2 separate regions of the Homo sapiens genome follow, and region 2 is linked to region 1. Evidence: fine-mapped expression QTL. Tissue or cell type: whole blood. Region 1 holds a variant in brackets; the other region holds the start of a gene. All regions are shown on one strand. Distances are from middle to middle.

Region 1 (2,682 bases):
CTTAGCTAGCTCCATGAGGTCTTCTGTGATCTGGTCTTGGCCAGCGACCTCTTGTCGTTGTTTTAAACCCTGTCTGGAATGTCCTTCCTCCTTCCCTTCCCATGGTGATGCCTACTCATCCTTCAGTGAGACCTAGGTCCTCAAACAATGCTCCTAAATGGAGCCTTCTTCCACCCTGCTTCACCCAGGCTGACTAAGCAGCCTCTTTGACTGTACTGGAGCATGGTGTCTTGTGTCCTTGCATCACGGCATTAATCTCATCCTCCTAAAATGAAGTGTTACGGGTCTGTCTTCCAAAGCTCCAGAGGAAGAGTCAGACCTGAGTAAATCTTTTTCACTTATTAGCTGTGTGGTCTTAGGCTAATTATTTAGCTGCTGTGAAACTGTTAATCTGTAAAATGTGAATACTACCTTCTGAGAATTTGTTCATTCAGAAACTTTTTTTTGTTTTTTGTTTTTTTTTTTGAGAGGGAGTCTCGCTCTGTCACCCAGGCTAGAGTGCAGTGGCACAATCTTGGCTTACTGCAACCTCCGCCTCCTGGAATCAAGCAATTCTCTCTCCTGTTTCAGCCTCCCGAGTAGCTGGGATTACAGGCGTGCACCACCATGCCTGGCTAATTTTTATATTTTTAGTAGAGATGAGGGTTTCACCATATTAGACAGGCTGGTCTCGAACTCCTGACCTCAAGTGATCTGCCTGCCTCGGCCTCCCAAAGTGCTGGGATTACAGGCGTGAGCCACCGTATGTGTCCAGGAAGTGCTTATTGACTGCCTGCTGTGTGCTAGGTTCTCTGTTGTCAGTGATCAGCAAACATATTTCCTGGTTTTAGGGCAGATAAGTTAGTAAGCTATCACGTTGGAGAGTGTTACATGTCATGACAGTGGTAAACACTGAGTGCTGTAAGATCTTGTATGTAGCATGAATTAGATACCCAGATGGTCACTTAATAAATTAATGAATAAATTAGCAAATGCAGAAACAAACCAACAGATAAACATAAGAAAAACTCAAGTATCAGCCATAGAAAATACTTTGAATCCATGTTTTGAGCTGCTTTTCAAAAATAGTTTTGACCTTTTTTTCAGAGTTTTATTCTCACATCTGCAGTATCTTGGCTTAAATGCTGCTGTTCTCTACTAAATTTGTTTACCTGGTAAACCATGGGGGTAAAACACTCTTTTGTTGAATAAACTCTTCTGTTTATTTCTTTGAAGATGCAGACAGTGGAGGAGATAGTCAGGAAGAGAGTGAGCTGGATGACCAAGAAGAACCCCCATTTGTGCCTCCTCCTGGATACATGATGTATAC[T/G]GTGCTTCCTGATGGTTCTCCTGTACCCCAGGGCATGGCCCTGTATGCACCACCTCCTCCCTTGCCAAACAATAGCCGACCTCTCACCCCTGGCACTGTTGTTTATGGCCCACCTCCTGCTGGGGCCCCCATGGTGTATGGGCCTCCACCCCCCAACTTCTCCATCCCCTTCATCCCTATGGGTGTGCTGCATTGCAACGTCCCTGAACACCATAACTTAGTAAGTGGAAAGACATACAACTCTCTTTCCACACTGCTTCCATGGGTGACTGATAAGGTTATATACTTAATGAGTTGACCTATTTATGACTGGATTATATGGCAAAGTGTGTTTGTAAGGCTGATGTTTAGAACTGTGCAAGCATTCTCTTATTAAAATTCTCTTATAAAAGCAGTGGCATGTGCCTATAATCCGAGCTACTCAGGAGACTGAGACAAGAGGATTGCTTGAGCCTAGGAATTCAAGGCCAGCCCCGGTAACAGCAAAAAACAAAAACCAAAAAAACAAAAATACCATGTACAGGAGTTAGGGTCTCAGGCCAGTCTACAAACCTGGGTTAGCCATTTAATAACAAATGTTTTCAGTCCAGAAATTTACCGTTTTTACAAAGCTTATGTATTTTTCTATTGACAAGTGTTATATTAATGTGTATGTATATATTCACTTACTAGTGCCTGTACTTGTACACATACATATATGTATAATATGAGTGTATACACATGTATGTGCACGTGTATGCACACAGGTATGGACAGCATACAGTAAGGTTTTGGTGGGGATTATCTCTAGGTAGGATTTATTTATTATTTATTTTCATAGTTTATATTTCGGTGGGGATAAGGTTTTGGGGATTATCTCTAGGTGGTGGGATTTATTTATTATTTTCATAGTTTATATTTTATTGTACACAATATTTTGTATTCTGTTTTTCCTACTTAATGTTATAAGCATTTGTCCATGGTTTTACAAATGTCTTTAAACAATATTTTAATGACTGTACAACATTTCTATATTTGTAGGTACTGTAGCTGACTGTAAATTCTTACTGTATCTCTTAGGCTAGATTCTAAGAAATAATTATTTCCTAATTACTAGATTACTTCCTTTTTCTTTTTTCTTCTTCTTTTTTTTTTTTTTTTTTTTTGAGACGGACTTGTTCTCTTTCGCCCAGGCTGGAGTGCGGTGGCGTGATCTTGGCTCACTGCAACCTCCGCCTCCCGGGTTCAGGCAATTCTCCTGCCTCAGCCTCCCAAGTAGCTGGGATTAGAGGCATACGCCACCACGCCTGGCTAATTTTTATATTTTTAGTATAGATGGGGGTTTCACCATGTTGGCCAGGCTGGTCTCGAACTCCTGACCTTGAGTGATCGCC
Region 2 (2,682 bases), 350 kb after region 1:
TCCCTAGGGACTCGTTCAGCTCTGCCTTATTCAGTCATTGAGCACCTGTTACATGTAAATGAGATAACTTAGATCCACATGCTGCCCCCATCTGGTAGAGGAGGCAAAATTCACCCAGATGTAACTCCGAAAGAGGTAGAAAGTGCCTGATGTAGTCAAAGAAGCACAGAAATGCAGCAGAATAACCCTGTCCTCCACACCCCCCACTCCCAGAGCCCTCCTTCGCCATGCACTTGCATTTCCTTACTCAGAGACTGGAAGGAAGGTCTCCAGTAGTATCCTTATTTCACAATCGGGGAAACTGAGGCTCTGTCTGGGAAGGTGGTTCCTTACTGGCAGCAAGCGGCAGGCCAGGGCTGCACCCTACATCTCCTGCTTCCTCAGACACGCCTGTTTCCAGGTAAAGGAAGGAGGCAGCCCGGCCTGCTCAGGAGCCCGAAGGAGTGCAAAGGAAGAGCAAAGCCTCAAAACACCTGCCTCGGGTCTCGGTTCCTTCCTGCCGGAGGAGCGGCTCTCACACCCTCCGCGCCTCCCAGTCCCTCCCGGCCGCCACAGCGGGAAGATCGAGGAATCTCAAATCCCTCTGCTTCTCTGGCTCTTTGCGCGCTGACATTTTTTTCTTCTTCTTTTTACTGTTTTTTTTTTTTTTACTTTCTTCAAGAGTTTGTGCAATCATTGTGTTTAGCCGTTTTCCTGCCATTTCCAAACGCGGGGTGGTGTCCTTTTCGAGTAGGAGCAAGGTTTGAAGAGTTGGAGGAAACTCCCGCCTCCCATCGCCCCAGTGCTGCAGGCACCCCGGATGCCAAAGTTAGTGTCGGAAACTTTCCCCATGCTGGGCGTCTGACTGAGTCCTCGGCTCTCCGAAGCTCTCTGACATCTCCCTCTCTATTCCCTTCCTCCTTGGGGTTCCTGCGACCCTCACTTTATCCCCCCACTCCCAGATTCCCCTTCCCAGAGGCGCGCCCTTCCTATCTTGTCCTGGGCAAGAGCCATTCCTCTGTCCTGCCCCACAGGCAAGGACAGACCCCTCACTCACTGCGACTTACTTGGTCGCATCCTGTGTCCCCTGCGTCTCCCCTCTCTTCCCCCACCCCAACCCCGCGGACCCGTGGGGGAACCTCAGCTTGCAGCTCTTCAGGCTCCAGTCTTGGAAGGCTGGACAGAGGGAGGGACGGCCACAGGATGGGGACAGAGGGACAGAAACTGGGTCCGATTTGGCACCGAGGTAGCGACAAGAACAAAAGCAGGGACACAGGCAGGGCAGACACCGGGCAGCGCCGGAGCAGCGGCCCGCCTCCACTCCCTCACCACCCTCTCCCAAGCGCGGAGCCCCCCGTCCGTGTCCTGCTCGTGGCCTCCGGGGACCTGGGCGGCTCCCCGCGGGACCCACCTGATCCGCAGAACCAGGGCGCCGAGGGCCGGCGCGCGGTGAGCTGGGCTGAGCAGGACCGCGCCCAGCTCCCGGCCCCGGCGAAGCCCTACGCGCTCTGATCAGCCACCGCGCCGCCTCCGCCCGAGCGGAGGCGCGTCCTCCCGCCCGTGGGCCGGCCGGCCGGGCTTCTGCTCTGGGCAGAGCGCAGCGGGTAGGGGCGCGAGGAGCCGGCGAGCGCTGACAGCGGGCTGCGCCAAGCCGGTCCCCGCCCCGGACACAGACAGCTGGAAGGCCGGCGAGCGAGTGCGTGAGTGAGAGTGTGTGTGTGCCGGGGAGGCGGATAAAATCCCCGGTGAGAGTGGCTGGGCCTCTTTTGCCTTCTCGGGCCTGCACGTGGTGGTGGTGGTGTAGGTGATAGAGCAGGAACCCCGGGCGTTGGAGGATGGGGTGGGGTCTGTGCTGTGCTGCTGGGAGGGGCTGCGCTGCGCTGGCGCACGGCCAAACTCTGGGAAACTCAGAGCCTTGGAGATCTGATCCACCGTTTGTTTCCCGAGGAAGGAAGAGCGCGAATGTAGACAGCGGCAGGCCGGGGCTGGAGTCGCTCTTGCGAGAGTCCTGAGCTCTGGAAGTGAGGGCTGGGCGTTGGGCACCTGGTTCAGGGTCTGCCCGCGTTTGCGCACTGACTTCATGATCTGTGAGCCCAGAGTGTCTCAAACGGGGCTCTAAGGCAGCCCCTAGGCTGTGGAATAACTCTTTAGTAGAATTATGTAGAAAGGAATCCAAACATTCGATTTCAGAGTGTGCGCTTCTGTGCCCAGTGTGGCAGCAATTCACTCAGAGAGTTGCTGTGGCCACAACTGGCTGCCCTCAGTTCTCTTGTCTTATACTGATAGCGACAAGGTCTTCTCACTCCCGCTCATATCAATCTACTTTACAGGTGGAAAAGTCAGAACTTCATTTTGCCATTTGCCGTTGAACGTCATTTTCATAGACTAAGAAATTCGCTTCTTAAATAATTCGGCCGGGCGCGGTGGCTCACGCCTGTAATCCCAGCACTTTGGGAGGCCGAGGTGGGCGGATTGCTTGAGCTCAGGATTTCCAGACCAGCTTGGGCAACGTGGCGAAACCCCGTCTCTACAGAATATAGAAAAATTCCCCAGGCCTGGTGGCGTGCACCTGTAATCCCAGCTACTCGGGAGGCTGGAGACTGAGAAAGAAAAGAAAAAATAAAAAATAAATACAAATAAAAATCAAACTGCCAGGCCAGGCGAGGTGGTTCTAGCTTGTAATCCCAGCAGTTTGGGAGGCCA

The links. PIP is the estimated chance that this variant, and not a neighbour inherited with it, causes the effect.
Region 2: it holds the start of GGTA1, and the variant in region 1 is fine-mapped to the expression of GGTA1 in whole blood (TOPMed, PIP above 0.99).

The regions. Positions count from the first base shown.
Region 1 is chr9:121,148,955-121,151,636 of GRCh38, forward strand. CNTRL (centriolin) reads left to right here. Exons shown (of 44, transcript NM_007018.6): 25 at 1,216-1,529. Among named protein-coding and RNA genes, the nearest start is that of RAB14, 52 kb to the right of the region's middle. The variant T/G (reference allele first, on the strand shown) is at 1,310.
Region 2 is chr9:121,498,260-121,500,941 of GRCh38, forward strand. It overlaps GGTA1 (glycoprotein alpha-galactosyltransferase 1 (inactive)), which reads right to left and starts at 1,585. Exons shown (of 6, transcript NM_001382585.1): 1 at 1,391-1,585. RefSeq lists silencers at 1-185, 1,535-1,634.